2 separate regions of the Homo sapiens genome follow, and region 1 is linked to region 2. The links come from fine-mapping of genetic effects on gene expression. Tissue or cell type: coronary artery. Region 2 holds a variant in brackets; the other region holds the start of a gene. All regions are shown on one strand. Distances are from middle to middle.

Region 1 (8,162 bases), 740 kb before region 2:
AGAGAAAGGGCAGGGCAGGACAGGTGGTGCCAGAGGTTTAAAGATGGAAACAGATCTGAAAGATTTGTGTTCTTTCTTCGCCATGCTGCTGGGAGGCAGGAGATCCCAGGATAGAGCACCACACTGCCCCAGGTCCTGGGTAAAAGGGTTTCCCATATGTTAAAGACATAGCTCTGCATTTCCTAGCAGGGCAAGCTGCTTTTAGTCTGAGTCTTAGCTTCTGCATCTGTAAAGTTGCTTGCTATAAAGGGATCAGCCTGACAACCTCAGAGGAATGTTCCAAAGAGAAGCCAGGGAATAACTTCTGTGATACAGGATCAGCCAACATTCAGCCAAGCTGAAAACAAGGCACCCCTAGGAAGGGGGAAACGCTACTGTGTTTACTCCTATTTTGTAGATGAGCACACTGAGGAACAGGGAGGAAAAGTGACTTGCTCAAGGTCACAAGATCTTCTTGAGCCTGCACTGTCCATGTCCTCTGCTGCACAGTACCTTCCAATCTCCATGCACTACATATCTCACTGGGCTCTACAACATCTTCAAGTGAGACAAATCACTAGCTCCATTTTAAAGCTGAATGAATTGAACCCAAGGCTAAGCCTTTCACCTCTAAGAGGATGGTGTGTTTAATAACCTAGCTGTTACTATTGGCTGGGTTGTGAGACCTGTGGAAGTCACCCTGCAGCTAGATTTCTGCGGAACCTCAAAGGCGGGGGTAGGGCTAGGGCTCAGCTGGCAAGGAAGCCCACAGGCCACTAGAGGGTGACATGGGAGCGGCATGGCCTGAGATGTTTAAGAATCAGAGAGGAAGCCTTGCACATTTTGGTGTCAAAACACCGGAGTCGAGGGTCACTCAGTAATCACTCACCTGGGTTTTCCCAAATTGTCCTGATACGAACGCTTGTCAAAACCGTTTCTGCCCAGGCACTCCCTTTCCTAGCCCCTGCCCCCAAATTAAGTTCTTCCCAAGGGAATGTAAGTGGAAGGAATCCGTGATTTCTGTCCGGTTTTTAAAAGATGGGATCGTTCTTCGCAGTCTCCTCTTCCCCCAGCTCTAGGCAGAGGCCTCTAGGCCCTTGGGGATGGTGGTGTAAGGTGGAAGGGGCAGGTCTTTGCAGCAGCATCTGCAGGAAAGCCTTTCTCCTACCTTTTGATGGTTTGGTGGTCTTTGGCTTGTAAAATAATCAGTCCAATCTCAGCCTCAGCTTTAATAGTAAGGGATCAAGCAGTAGTTTCTACTCAATGTTCCTCATACCCAGAGTCAAGGATTCTGCTATGCTAACACTAACATTATGGCTAAAGAATGTTCACTTTCTGTTAAGTTATGTTGTGAATCAGTTGTATTGATGTGAGGAGACATTCAGAACTACCATGAGGATATTTTAAACAGTTGTTAAATCAAGTTTAGCCTAAAGCTGCTTCCTTATATATTTTAAGTTCGGCTTATAGGTTTTCTGCACATTGTGAACTATAAGTGGAGGCATAAACAGACCGTAGCCTATACTTGTGCCAATCACAGAGTTTTTGCCAATCAAATGTAGCCAACTGTTCAAACCATGTTCAAATAAGGCAAGGCAGAGCTGTAACCAATCCAGCTGTTTCTGTACCTCACTTTCCTTTGCTGTCCATAAATCTTCCATTACATGGCTGTGCTGGAGTGTCTGAGCTTGCTCTGGCTCAGAAAGCTGCCTGATTTGAATCGATTGCTCAATTAAACTTTTTTTCTTTTGAGACAGAGTCTTGCTCTGTCGTCCAGGATGGAGTGCAGTGGTGCAATCTTGGCTCACTGCAACCTCCACCTCCCGGGTTCAAGTGATTCTCATGCCTCAGCCTACCGAGTGGCTGGGATTAGAGGCACTCACCACCATGCCCAGTAATTTTTGTATTTTTGGTAGAGACAGGGTTTCACAATGTTGGCCAGGCTGGTCTCGAACTCCTGACCTCAAGTGATCTGCCCACTTCATCCTCCCAAAGTGCTGGGATTACAGGTATGAGGCACTGCACCCGACCCGGCCAATTAAGCTCCTTTAAATTTAATTCAGCTGAAGTTTTTCTTTTAGTACACTGAACAGGGGAAACTGTTTAAAACAACATCATATTTCTCAGAGGCTAATACTTAAATATAAGATGGAAGGATCAAAGTGTAACTATTGTCATTTTTATCACTTGCTGTGCTAAGTGCTTTCATGTGGATTTACTTAAACCTTTTAAAAGTCCTGTGAGATAAAGGGTATCATACTCATATTTACAGATGAGGAAACTGAATTTAGAAACTAGTATAGTAGTGAAACAGCAAAACTCTTCTGCTATACTCTATTGGAGCAATTAGAAACTATGCCTTAACATTTTTCTAATTTTTGTTTTGTAAAATTCTGTGCCACTGGATTTCTCATTTGGTTGATTTAGGGAGACCTGTGTACACTAAACATTTGACACATTAACAGAGTACTTGACTGATTTGACTACATTTGTTTGGCAAAAAAGTACAGCAGCTCAAAATTGAAACAGTTTTTGCAACATATGTATATTTTTCTTTGTTTTACCTATGGGGATAATTTACAAAGGCAGTTGTTTCCAAATACCTTCTTGTGAAGCTGAATGCTAAGCAAGTAAATATCAACCACTGATGAAGAAACCAGGTGAGAGACCTTAGACAAGGTAAAATAATCTGAAAAGATGCCTGCAAATATTTTGCAGTTTAGACTCTACGCCTTGCAGAGTTTTGAGCTCTTTTTTCTTGATGTTGTGTTAGCAATGTAATCTTTTTTGGTGCTGAGCTTAGCTTGCTGAGATGAAAGGGATTTCTTTTTCTTCTCAAGGAGTTGACACAATGGAAGCTGGAGGCATTTCCCAACACTGTGGTCAATGCTACAGTCGGGGAACAAGCAAGTCTCCCCCAAAACAGGGATCGGAGTTTTTAAGGATAATTTGGCGAGTAGGAGCTCGGGAAGTGGGGAGTGCTGACTGGTTGGGTTGGAGATGGAATGATAGGGGGTTGAAGTGAGTTTTTCTTGCTGTCTTCTGTTCCTAGGTGGGATTGCAAAACTTGTTGAGCCAGATTACCGGTCTGGGTGAAAAAGCAGAGTGGCATTCTTCCTGGAGGAGCTGGCTGAAGATCTGTAGAGGGCCCATGTGCCACGTTCAGAGCACTGTTGGGCTGTGAGGTGCCAGGCATGCCCTGCCTCCTACGTGGGCCCCTATGGCCTGGCCTTGAAACCGCCACTGCAAAATTATAACCGAGACAATGAAAGAGATCTGACCTAACCAACTCCATCTTGCTTCTAACCTCCAAGCTGTCCTTGTTCATTCCTGAGCGTAGGCTGAACTAACCTTGGGAAGGAATGAGTTTATAGTTTAACTTCAAAACAAAAATAGCCCTTTCCCGGGAAAACAACAACAACAACAACAAAAAACAACCTCTTCTTGCCTGGGACCAGTTGGCCTTTGGAGGACTAACAAATTAGCTATAAGATTAGAAATTACAGTTTAGAGGCCATACAGCCTTTGGTTGCAAGAGTCTGAACGTCCCCCAAATTGTTCCTGGGAATAACATCACTGTTGTAAAACCTACCAACACCCAGACTGGTAATCTGGCTCAACTAGTTCTGCAATCCCATTCAGGAACAGAAGACAGCAAGAAAAACTCACTTCGGCCCCCTATCAGTCCATCTCCAACCCGACCAATCATGCACCTCCCACTTCCCGAGCTTCTACTCGCCAAATTATCCTTAAAAATTCCGATCCGTTTTTGGGGAGACCGATTTGGCTAATAAAACTCCCTTTCCAACACACCCGGCTCTGCGTGAATTACTCTCTCTCTATTGCAATTTCCGTCTTGATAAATCAGCTGTCTAGTCAGCGGGCTGTAACCTTGGGCGGTTACAGCCTGGCCTGTCCCATCCCATCCAATAGTTCCCATCTCTTCTCAGCTCTCTCTGTAGTTTCTCTTCCTCCGCCTGCCTTTTAAGTTAGTGTTTCCCAGGACAGAGGTGACTCAGTTGTATCCAGACCGCTCTGTGACTGAACACCCACTTTCTTTTCCTTTTCCAAAAAATATATGTAACATACATGTCAACTAGGAACAAAACAGTATCTCAGGAATCCACCATCCAGTTAAAAATGGACCCTTACCCTTACCGTGCCCCTGCAGAGACCCCAATACAGCGCATTTCCCTCATTCTTTTGCTTTTCTCAAGTTTTACCACGGCCTCGTGGCCACAAGTGACAAAAGAGACAAGTGGAGGCAGCTGAGCCGGCCTTTAGGTTTCTGTACACAGGGAGATTTCCCATGGCTGGCATTTATGGAAACAACCGCTGGTATGTGAAAAACAGGTCCGTCACCGCCGTCACGACGGCCAGAGATTATACCCGCCGAGATGCCCGCGGCCCAGGGCCTACAATTTCCTCCGGCCAGCTCCTTTGGCCGCGCAAGCGCAGTGGGGCCGGCGGGAAGCGTAGGCGTGTGACGTCATCAGGCGGCGCGGGCCAGCCAGGTGCACGTGACTAAGGCCTTGGGCGCGGCAGGTGGTAGCCTTCCCGCCCTTCTGGCCTCTCCATCCCCTGCTGCGGGGGACCGCGCAAGCGCAGTGAGTACTGCACGTTGTCGCGGGCCAGTAACGTCATCAGACGTGTGTGTGTCCCTGCGGCGCTAAGAAGGGGAGACTGAGGCTGAGGCTGGGGAACATCGGGCAGCATGAGCGGCTGCGGGCTCTTCCTGCGCACCACGGCTGCGGCTCGTGCCTGCCGGGGTCTGGTGGTCTCTACCGCGAACCGGCGGCTACTGCGCACCAGCCCGCCTGTACGAGCTTTCGCCAAAGAGCTTTTCCTAGGCAAAATCAAGAAGGTAACGCGAGCCCTGGGCGAACCCTTGCTGTCTGGCTCCCGCTTTTCACCCTCAGCTGCAAGACTGGTGTTGAACTTTGTGAGATTCCCCAAACCTGCCAGAGAGATACACCCTGCGGCCGAGGCGTGTTAACACTCCGGATTCCTGAGTTCCAGGAAAACCTTCCCAGAGAAAGGGTGAGACATTTCCAAGACGGGGGACCCTTGGAAATGTGGTGGTGACGTGTTCCAGCTAAATTTTGTCAGGGGAATTCGGAAAACTCTAGGCTAGGTAATTAACAAAGCAGCCTTCATCTCAGCTGGTCTGGTCTGGAAATGTGCGGGGCTTCCTCTCTGATTCCTAAACAGCTTACACCATGTCCCTCCTCAGTCACCTTCCAGCGCCCTGGGGCTTCCTTCCCCAGGTGAGCCCAGCGCCTCTCCCTGCCATTGAGGTTCCTCAGAAATCTGGCTCCAAGATGCTTCCCAAGGGTGGCACAACCCAGCCAATAGTAACAGTTTGGTTATAAAACACTCATTGTCTTCTTAGAGTTGGAAGACTTGGGTTTGGTCTTGGCTCGTTGACTTTGAAACTCAGTTGTTTTTTTTGAGACAGAGTCGCGCTCTTGTCGCCCAGGCTGGAGTGCTCACTGCAACCTCCCTCCTGGGTTCAAGCGATTCTCCTGCCTCAGCCTCCGGAGTAGCTGGGATTACAGGCGCCTGCCCGGCTTTTTTTTTTTTTGTATTTTTAGCAGAGACGGGGTTTCACCATGTTGGCCAAGCTGGTCTAGAACTGACCTCGGGTGATCCGCCCACCTCGGCCTCCCACAGTGCTGGGATTACAGGGGTGAGCCACCGCGCCCGGCCAAGACTCAGTTCTTTCAGCCTTAAAATGGAGATAGTGTTGTGTCTCCTTCACAGATGTGTTGTAGAGCCCCAGTGAGATAAACGGTGCATGGAGAGTCTTCTTAAACTGTAGAGTACTGTGCAGCAGAAGAGAGAGCTGGCTTCAACACTTAGTCTTGTGACCTTGGAGCTGACGGCTGCACCTCCCTGTGCCTCAGTGCATTCATCTACAAAATAGGAATAAACACATTTCTTGCTCTTTCCTTTGTATTTCATTTTATCTTCTAAGGAAACCAACAGTATACTTGCTATTTCGTCGAGGTGCCCTACTTTGAACTTGGCTGAATGTTGGCTGATCCTGTATCACAGAAGTTATTCCCTGGCTTCTCTTTGGAACGTTCCTCTGAGGTTGTCAGGCTGATACCTTTATAGCAAGCAACTTTACAGATGAAGAAGCTAAGACTCAGACTAAAAGCAGTTTGCCCAGCTAGAAAGTGCGGAGCTATGTCTTGAACATATTGGAAAACCTTTTACCCAGGACCTGGGGCAGTGTGGTGCTCTATCCTGGGACTTCCTGCTATCCAGCAGCATGGTGAAGAAAGAACACAGATCTTTCAGATCTGTTTCCATCTTTAAACCTCTGGCACTACCTGCCCTGCCCTGCCTTTACTCTCAGCTGTCAGCTTTGCTTCCCATTCCACTGGGAAAATCCATGCAGTCGGATGAGAAGTTCACAGGCACAGTTACCCCCTCCCGCTGCATATGTGCCGGTATTATCTACATTCTGTTACTGTGAACTGTCTGCTCCTGGCAAAACCAACCTCTCATTAGACTCCAGGTCTTCTCACCTACTCAAGGGTAATTCTTTCCTTTCTCTGCATCATTAACTGTTCTCTCTACTGGATCTTGAGCCCTTACCATTCAGGCATTTGTCCCTAATGGCCATAGAAGTCAGTAATGACCTCTCTGTTATCAAATTGTGTGATCTGTTCTCAGACCTCATCCTACTTGACCCATCATTGGCATCTGACACCGTTCATCCTTCCACCCTGTTGACGCACTTTCGTCTCTGGTTTCTGAATCACTGTTCTCGCCATTCTCTGAATGTTCTAAATACTTCACTGGCTGATACTTCTCTGTGTCCATTGCTGGTTCTTATTCAGCTCCTTGACCGCTAAACAGTGACCAGTGTTTCCAACTAGCCAAGTTGGAATTTACTAAGGCTGGGTCTCGTTTCATCTACAGCCATCTGCTGGGTGACCTTATTTAGTGTCCTGGCTTTAAATATCATCAATATCCTGATGCCTCAAGTTTCTTTCTTCAGTTCAGATTTCTCCCTGAACTCCAGATTCCTTTTGCTTTTTCAGAGTTGGGGGCTTTCTCTGTCACCTGTGCTGGAGTGCAGTGGTGCCATCATAGCTCACTGCAACCTTGAACTCCTAAGGCTCAATAGATCCTCCCACTTCAGCATCCCCAGTAGCTGGGACTACAGGCACGCCCTGCCACACCCAGCCAAGATTCTTTTTTTAATCTACCTTTGTACTCAAAAGCTGTACTAAGAGGTCTAACAGGCATTTGAGATTAATAGATCCCAAACTGAGTTCCTGGTTCCCACCCAATCCTGCTCCTTCCACCAGCCTTCTTTATCATAGATAATGGTGGCTCTGTTGTTCCACCTGTTCAAACAGAACACCTGGAGTCACCTTGTACTCTTATTCTCCTAGTCCACTTCTAATTCCACAGAAGATCTGGTTTTCTCTACTTTTAGGTTCTTAGAATCTGACCACTTTTAGGCCCTTCTGCTGCTACTTTGGATCAGGCCAGTGTCATCTCTCACAGCCTTACTGGGATTAGAGCAGAAACATGGGACATGATGCTTAGAATCTCAGATTGTGTAGGCCAGTGGTTGTCACCCTGCCCTAAGCTGGACCCAAGCTATTCATGGAGTGTCCTGGAACTGCTGCAGGGATGGGTGGGAAGTTGAGTGGGTGGGATTTGGGTGCCTGTTTTCCCTATCAGCAGTCTCAGTCAGAGCCGCCTGCTTCTGTCTGTTTTACATATTTGGTTTCTGCACTAGATTTCTTTGAATAACAGGTTCCACTTTTTTAGATAATTTACAAACTGTTTATTGCAATTGAACTCTCCTCCCCTAAGGCATTGACCTGATTTGATAACATCAGGATCTTTCTCCCACGCCCCTGCAATCTCTCCTGTGTGGCAGGTTTTCTGTGGTTGTACCTGAAGGCCAATTAGTTGCCAGGCAGTCTTATCTGGCCTGCCCACTGGTACCAGAATGATCTCTAACACAGCCCATTGCACAAGACCCAAGTGTCAGTGAGCCTCTGTGTTCAGTGAAGGAGACTGAGCTTTGATATAAAAGGCTGCAGAGTGATGGAGCCATCAGCTTGTTTTTTTTTTTTTTTCTTGTTTTTTTTTTCCTTGAGACAGTGTCTTACTCTGTTGCCCACCCTGGAGTGCAGTGGTGCAATCACAGC
Region 2 (8,162 bases):
TGCCATGTTGGTCAGGCTGGTTTCGAACTCCTGACCTCGTGATCTGCCTGCCTCGGCCTCCCAAAGTGCTGGGATTACAGGTGTGAGCCACCGCACCCGGCCTGAGTCCTGTTCTTAATGAACTTGAGTCTCCATGGCCCCAGGCCCCAGTGCCAATGGGCCCCAAGGGGTTCTCTTAAGTCTTGGGCTGGCACATACACCCCACTTCAGACCCGTTTCCACCCTGTAAGGCTTCCTGGCTCCCTTTATGCCCCAGTAAACTTCTGAGAACTGTTTTCTCACCTTCCATGCTTCCTGAGAGACCTGGCTGGGAATGAAGCCATCCTTGGAAGCCTCAGGGAGGCCGGGCAGGTGTGAGCTAAAATCCAGGTGAGCCTGCTTCCCGACCAGGCCTTTCCCTTCCAGTGGCCCCAACCTCACCACTTGGTTCCAGCCAACTCAGTGGGGACTGACAAGGCCCCACTCATCTTTTGAAACTGCTGCTGGGTCTGGAGAAGGAAGGGCTGCCTGCAGCAGGGTGAGTGCCTGTCACGAGTATGCAAGCTGCAGACCCTAGACATGGCCCCACCTCGGACCAGCTGCACGATTCTGAGAGCCCACTCCGACCAAGCACTTGCTGTGTGCCGAGCACACTCCACACTGGCACAATCCCAACCGCTCTAGGATGGGGCAGTGGAGGGGCCCTCACCCATACGGTCACACACAGGGCGTACAGGAGAGGCTGGCATGGGTGAGCAGGGTCCCGGAATACTGTGGTCTTACTGGTCTGATGGCCTACATGAGCCCCTAGAGAGAACCCAGTGTCCAGAAAAGGTGTTTCCTCTCTTGTTTTCTGAGTGAACTTTTTGTATCCCTCAAGACCCAACCCAATTTCACCTTCTCTGGAAAGTCTTTCCTAGTGAACTCCTAGGCCTCCCTCAAGACCTAGTCTAAAGACCTTCTGAGAAGACTTCCTTGAGCCTCAAAGCAGTATTAGGAGTTCCTCCACCCACTTAGAGCTCCTCCTATCAAACCTCATATCACCCAGTGCGAGGGCACGTGACTTCCCCAGTGCACTGGGAGCGCTTCCAGGGTGGAACACACGATCACTACTAATAAATGTTGGGCTGGGCAGATGGCTGCCAGCACCACCCCAGGACATGCCCCCCCAGCAGGCAGGATGGTCATGTTGGCTGCTGGAGACCCCCTCCCTGGGCAGTGCCAGGCAGATGCTGCCAAAGCGACCTCCCTGTCCCCACTGTCCATTGGCCCTACTGACTGCCCCTCATAAGAGCAGGCCACATCAGCCCTCCTGCACCTCCTGCCTCATCTGGGACACCCACTGGCCCTCAAGGTGACCGTTCACACCTGATTCCTGGTGGAGTTCTGAGGGTCCTGTCCCTCATCTCATGACACACAAGCAAAACCCTGGGCGGAATAGAACACTGAGGGTCATTCTTCTCCCTCCCTCCCTCCCTCCCTCCCTTCTTCCTTCCTTTCTCCTTCCTTCAGAAAGAACCCTTAACTAAGCACCTACTATGTGCCAGGCACTGGGATATCATAGTGAGCCCACAAGCATGGTCCTTGTCTTCAGCCCTACCCCAGGGGGCAAATAATCTTTAACCAAATAACTCAAATAATTACACAACCACAAAGAGCCACCCATCTTACAAAGGAGCCATACCAGGTGGTTCTGGAAAAGTTTCTCCCAAGGGGACTCCAGCCCATCTTCCTCGGGCCCCTGGGGCTGAGATCTGCAGGATGCAGCAGAGTCAGGAGGGTGAAGAGAGCCTTCCAGGCAGGGCACAGCAAGGGCGGAGCCCTGGAGGACAGAGGCCCGTGTGGGCAGAGCAGAGGAGGGTGAGAGGCGAGCAGAGGAGGGTGAGAGGCCAGCAGCAGGCTGGTGGAGGATCCAGGGCTCGTTCTTGGGGGTGTTAACTTTGAGAGGGTCCCAACCACCAGCCCAGCCTCTGGGCACAGGGGCTCCACTGGGTGCGGGTTCCCCTTGGCAGCCACCACAGGGATTGTTTATCTGTGCACGCTCACAGAAGTGGAAGCTGCCACCCCAGGCTGATGGCTCTGAAGGGGGAAGAACCTTCCCAGAGCTGTCCAGGAAGGGCAGGGGCCACAGCACATGGGCCGCAGCACACTGGCCCAGCTCCCAGCCACCAAGAGAGAGGCATTAGGGGTCCCGCCCTGTAGTGAGCTTCTTGCACAGCCTGTACCAGCCTGTGAAAGCCCCTGTCTCAGGGATACCCCATTGTGTGTGTGCATGTGGGCATGAGGGGGTGGTCTGTGCAAAGATGGGGTGCCGTGCATGTGAGGAGGGGTATAATGTGTGTTCGTGTGCATGGGGTGCATATTGGGGTCACATGCACACACATGGGAATTCCTGGTATGTGGTGGAGGTGGCTGTACAAGCCAAGGTCTGCATGGGCAACAGGCTGATGGAGTGGACTTGCACGAGGGCTGTGGCTGGGAGCCAAGGCCTGCCGGGGCCCAGGGTCTGTGGTTCACGCTGGGGATTTGGGCCTTGGAGGCTATCGGGACCTTTTCTGTCAGGGCCTCTGACAGGTCCTGATGCCCTGTGGCTGAATGAGGGCTTCTTCATGAAACATGCGATTTTATAGTCAATCTCCAAGAGCCAGATCTCTGCTTTGGAGGCCTCGGCCTGACCTTGGGTGGCCCTGGATGATCCAGTCTCTGATCTGAGGTGGTCTAGCCTCCAACCTTGAGTGGTCCAGCTTCTGGCCTTGGGGGGATCAGCCCTTAAGCTAGGGCAGCCCAGCCTGTGAGTAACACTCACTCTGGATTTCCCTGGCCAGAGTCCTCTCTGCGGAGGAACTTGGGACCAGTTCTTTAGGGAGTTTTGGGTGACATCATCCCTCCTTACTCAAGAGCAGCCTTACGAGAACGACAGCTGGGTATCTCGGGATGAGCCACCCTCTTTCCCCTGTGGCTTCCCCTGTGACTTCCCCACTCCTACTTAGACTCTGAGTCCTGAAGGCCCAGAAGTCCCCGAGTCCCCTTGTCAGTGTGGGATTCAGTCCTACCAGGCCCCTGAACTTCCCTCCTGCCTTCTCCCCCTGGATAAGTCTCCTGGTGTCTCCAAGATTTGGATCTGGCTGCTCCTCTTCCAGGCAGCCTTCTCAGCTCTCACAGGCTGGGTTAGGCTTCCTCCTCCTCTACCCCCACAGTACCCTGGACTCCCACCATCCAAGCACCCACACCAGGTGATGCTGTCTCTGTTGCTCTGGCTCCTCTGCCAACCAGGAGGCATCTGAAGAGCTAAGTCTTTTGGGAACATACCTATGTCCCCCCATCACTAGGCAGAAGGTTAAACTCTAAGCAGGCTCACGAGAGTGAATGAACACATGAAGGAACAAATGAGAGAGGAGATGAATGAACGTCCTCCCAACATCTTCTGGGCTGGTGCCCACTCCTGTGTAGCCTCCAGGGCAGCCAACGGGGAGGCAGCTTTGACCTTCTCCCCTGGCCTCCTGCGGTATCCCCACCTGCCACTCACCCACCTGTCAGGGAAGGTGGCTACCCACACCCTGGCCCGAGAAGGGTTTGTGTCTCTAAAATACAGGTTTTCCAGGGAGGACGTGACTTAGCTGGGATGAGATGTACAGGACAGTCATGCCAGTCTCACCTCCATTCCCCCAGCTCACAGCCCCTGGCGGGCAGGAGGAGGCACTTTGGGGTCCCCATGCAACATAGGAGGCTGTGGAGCCAGAAGGATCTGGGTTCAAATCCAGCTTT[G/GC]CCCCTCTGCACGGTGGGACCTTGGACAGAGCCTTTTTCCCATCTGCAAGTCTGGGGTGAGGCTGCACCTTGGCGGCTCACAGGAGCCCAGTCATCCCTGGCACAGCCCCCAGGGCATGGCTGAATCAAGACTACGAGGTCTGAGGTGGAAACATACTTTTGGAGTCAATGCAGCTAATGCTTCCTGAGGCCACTGTGAGGACCCTGACAGGCACCCTCAGTGAGATGGGGGCCGAGGAGGGTGCTGGGCTGGGAGCTGTTGTCTCAGCACATGGCGGGAGATGCTGTGGGAGGGGGAGGCAGAGGCAGGAGACCCCAGGGAAGGCAGGTGAGACAACCATGAGGGTGGTCAGGCAGAGGAGGGCATCCTTTCACCAACAAGTCCTGCGGCCTTGGGGGTGGCAGCTCCTGGGGCCTTCTGAGCCCACGTCAGTGTCTTCCTCGATCCCTTGTAAGTTGTAGATGGTGTTCTGTCACCCGCGGCCTGCCGCCCACCCCAATGTGTGTCCCCCAAAATGTGAATGGGGGGCTGTGGCAGTGGCAGGGCTAGAGGCTCAAATGCAAGTAAGTGTCCTAAACCGAGGCTGAGATCCCCCACAGTCCCACCCTGCATGTCCCCAGTCCACCACCCCACCCAGCTGCCCAAGGCAGAACCCGGGAGGCACCTGGATGCCCCGTCCCTTCCTCCCACCTGTCCAGAGGTTGCTTCCCAATCACCCCTGCTTAGACTCTGAGTACTAAAGGCCCAGAAGTCCCCGAGTCCCCTAGTCAGTTTGTCCCTTTTAGCCCCAAGACTACTGTACCCGTCTGAGCCGTCACCTCCCGCCTGGACCTCCCCTCCCACTTCCTCTCTCTGCTGCCCTCCTCCCTTCCTCTCCTCAAATCACTTTTCCTGTGGGACATTTTCAAGCTGCAAATCTGGTTGTGTTGTTTTTCTCCAACTTCAAGTCCTGCAAACGCTCTCAGGGTAAAGCCAGGTCCCTTAGCCCAGGTTCCCATCTCCATGGCGGCCCCACCCACTCCAGTCATACCTGCGCTCCTACTGCCTCCCACCAGGCCTTCGTCATTACCGTCCCCCTCGCCTGCGACCACCTGTACTTCCCCCCAGCCCATAAACACCCCATGCATCCGGCTCAGCTCAAGGGTCCTCCGGCTGAGGGCTGCACCCCGCCTGCCCCGGTGGCTCAGCCGTCCTCATGTGCTCTGCACGGCAGCTGTGTCGTTTGATTAACGTCTGCAGATGGCACAGGGCAGGGTCCTCCTCTGTCCCGTCCACCGCTGGGACCTGAGGGCCAGACACTGCAGGCGGATGCTCCTCCACCTGTGAGCACAGGGTGGGGGTAGAGCCCCCGGCCTGTCCCACCATCCAGGGGAGGCTATTTCCAGCTCCCAGAAGTAGGAAGTGAGTCAGAACAGGGGCAGGCGGCCGCCGGCACTATGGGCGAGACGGCTGAGACCTGCACAGAAGGCTGGACCACCACCCAGGGTGGCAGGAAGGAGGCCTAGAGGAAGAGGATAGGAGGGAAGACCCTCTCCCCAGCAAAACAGGCAGCCCTGTGGGGCCCCTGCGGAAGCCGGTTTCGTCAGCACAGATGCAGCCACCAGGCCCATTGTCCTGCCACACCTGGGGCCCACCAGGAACAGCCTCCAGCCCAAACCCTCCAACCCAGTGGACACCCGTCCTGGGCCACTGCACAGGCCGGGCCTGCTGTGATCTCATTCACTGTCCACATGAGCACATGAGCAGAGGCTCTCCCTGGCCCCGTTTTCCAGAAGGCCAAAGAGAGGCCTTGAACCCAGCTCTGTGTGGTCATGGAGATCTCTCTGGCTTCTAAGCCTCAGGGGGTACAGGAGGCCCAGGGGACTCCAAAACTGCTCCAGAGGCAGCCACCACCAAGTCTGGAGCAGGCTCAGGGAAGGGGGCACAGACCTGCCAGGCCAAGGTTCTAGTCCTGGCTCAGTCTCTATCTGAAAACAGGGCCAGCCAGGTTCCCCTTCCCCGCCAGGCCTCAATTTCCCCATCCTCACTCGAGAGGCTTGGCTGGGCAGACTGAGTCAAAGCCAGGGGCTGCCTGGGCAGGGGGCTCAGGGGAGTCTCTGGGGACCAGGGTCCCTCTTCTTCCCTGCATCACAACCCGGGGCTCCAGGGACCCCAAGGATAGAATTGGCCGGGCAGCAGGGGAGCAGCACCCAGGGAGCCTCCATCCCAGAAAAGAGGCGGTGCAGGCCAGCCACGGGCAGCCCAGCTCAGGGGCACCTTCACATCCTCAGCTGGACCCATGTCACCACCACTGCTGCCTCTCCATTCTCACTTCCCTTTTGGTGCCAGAGCTGGGAAACCTCTGCCTCAAAAGGATCTGGGCTTGGATGGGCTGTGCAACTAGATGGGCACCCTGAGGCCTGGCCACCGAGGGTGGGCAGACCCAGGACATGGGGCCAAGGAGAGGCAGGACCACACAGGACAGACCCACAGGAGCATTGTTGGGTTATGACCTCTAGTCTAGGGTAGGGCGGCTGGGGGGTGGTAGAGTTTGTTTTTAAATTTTTAAAAATTTTATGTAGAGACGGGGGTCTCGTGATGTTGCCCAGGCTGGTTTTAAACTCCTGGCCTCAAGTGATCCCCATCCTTGGCCTCTCAAGGTGCTGGGATTATAGGCGTGAGCCACTGCACCCAGCCAGTTTTGAAGTTTTTCTTTTTTTGTGTCTGAATTTTCTAAGTTTTCCTCAAAGAATATGTATTATTTCTGTTAAAAAAAACATGGAGGCAGAACGAGGTGGCACATGCCTGTGGTCCCAGCTACTCAGGAGGCTGAGGTGGGAGGATTGCTTGAGCCCAGAAGGTCCACAGTTCAATGAGCTATGATCGCACCACTGCACTCCAGCCTGTGTGACAGAGCGGGACCCTGTCTCCAAAACAAAAAGCAGAGGGGAAAGCGATGGGTTGGGGGACCTGGATTTTTACAGGGAGGTACAGCTGTGACCCCGGGAAACTCTGGCCACTATCTGATGGACATTGGTGTTAGTGTCAGCACATGCTGCAGAATGATGGGGAAGGTAGGGGAAGGGAATACCCTGGTTAGTGTCCCCATCTGCGAGTTACCCTCCACAGTGCAAGGTGCTTATCCCCATCCAGACAGAAGCGTGCAGGTGCTGAAGCAGGAGCTGCCTCCGCCTGCCTCCTCTCACCCACTCTAGCCCCAGTCTCCTCACCAGACCTCAAGGCCATGCATGGGGCTTGGGCATAGGAAGCCCAGGACGGAGCCCTGACCCTTGGGACCTTCTCGTGCCCACCCAATGCTAGGCCCAGTGTGACTGGGGAGGAGCTGAGAGGTTAAATGATAAGCCCCGGAAAAGGCTCTTAGCAGTTGCAGCCACGTGTAATTTACAGCAGGTCTGAATCCCCACTGCCCATAATTCACTTCCATTTGTGTGACCCCAGGCCCCTTGGGGAGGATGCTGGGAGAAGGCAAGAGTTGGGGGTGGCGCTATTTTCAGCACCGGGAGTTGAATGGTGGGGGATGATTGATGCAATCTGTGGGTCTGCTTGTGCTCCTGTGCCCTAGACCCTCCCAGCCACGAGACCCCACCCGCCCAGCACCAACCCCAGTTCCTGCCCTTGCTAAGCAAAGGCCCGCCAGGCCTCACGCCGGGACTGGCCGGGTCAGTTTTGCCGGGCGTTGCTGTTATCCCCATGTATCAGAGAAGGAAATTGAGGCTGACAAGCAAACTCACTGCCCAAGGCCACACAGCCAGAATCATCCGAGTCCAGCCCTGTGGGCTGTCCCACCCACACTCCTTCTGTGCCACTGTCCCCCACCCCCTGGCCCTCCTGTGTAAGTTTGACTCTCCCCTCTGCTTTCTCCGCATCTGCACCTCCCACCCCCAGATGGAGACTCCTGAGCAGGCAGTGAGGACTGCGGAGGGGTCATCACACTAGCGTCCCTTTCCATGCTCGGCTCAGCTGTCCACTAAGGGCCGTCTTCAGCCCGGTGCTGGGTGCTGGCTCAGCAGAGGAGGGGGCCATAAGCCAGTATGCCCAGTGCACAGGGGAAGATGGAATGCAACTTCATGAGAGCAAGAAGAGGCCACCAGCAGTTTAGCCTCGGTGCAGGGAGGTCAGAGAGGGCTTCCTGGAGGAGGTGATGCCTAACCTCAAAGAGGCACCGGAGCTGCCAATGGATGCAGTAGTTCAGGCAGGGAGAGGAGGAAACAGCATGTGCAAAGACCCAGAGGCAGGAAGGAGCACGGCACATCAGTCTTTCGCTACTGCTGGCCCTGCCTTGCCTGACCCCTCCCCTCCCCATCCGTGCCCTCCCTGACCTCCCCCACCCACACCCATCCTCTCCTGCCGGCTCCTCTGCAGACCGGAAGGCGAGGTGGAATCCAGTCCCACAGCTCTCAATGAAGAGAAACTGCTT

The links. PIP is the estimated chance that this variant, and not a neighbour inherited with it, causes the effect.
Region 1: it holds the start of ACAD9, and the variant in region 2 is fine-mapped to the expression of ACAD9 in coronary artery (GTEx, PIP above 0.99).

Annotation. Positions count from the first base shown.
Region 1 is chr3:128,874,999-128,883,160 of GRCh38, forward strand. ACAD9 (acyl-CoA dehydrogenase family member 9) reads left to right here and starts at 4,622. Exons shown (of 18, transcript NM_014049.5): 1 at 4,622-4,843. The coding sequence starts at 4,694. ACAD9-DT (ACAD9 divergent transcript) reads right to left here and starts at 4,438. Exons shown (of 3, transcript NR_186174.1): 1 at 4,138-4,438. RefSeq lists enhancers at 3,492-4,343, 4,199-4,748, 4,344-5,196, 4,809-4,888, 5,197-6,048.
Region 2 is chr3:129,614,037-129,622,198 of GRCh38, forward strand. LOC124909431 (a long non-coding RNA gene) reads right to left here and starts at 1,765. Exons shown (of 2, transcript XR_007096079.1): 1 at 1,664-1,765. RefSeq lists an enhancer at 890-1,184. The variant G/GC (reference allele first, on the strand shown) is at 3,745.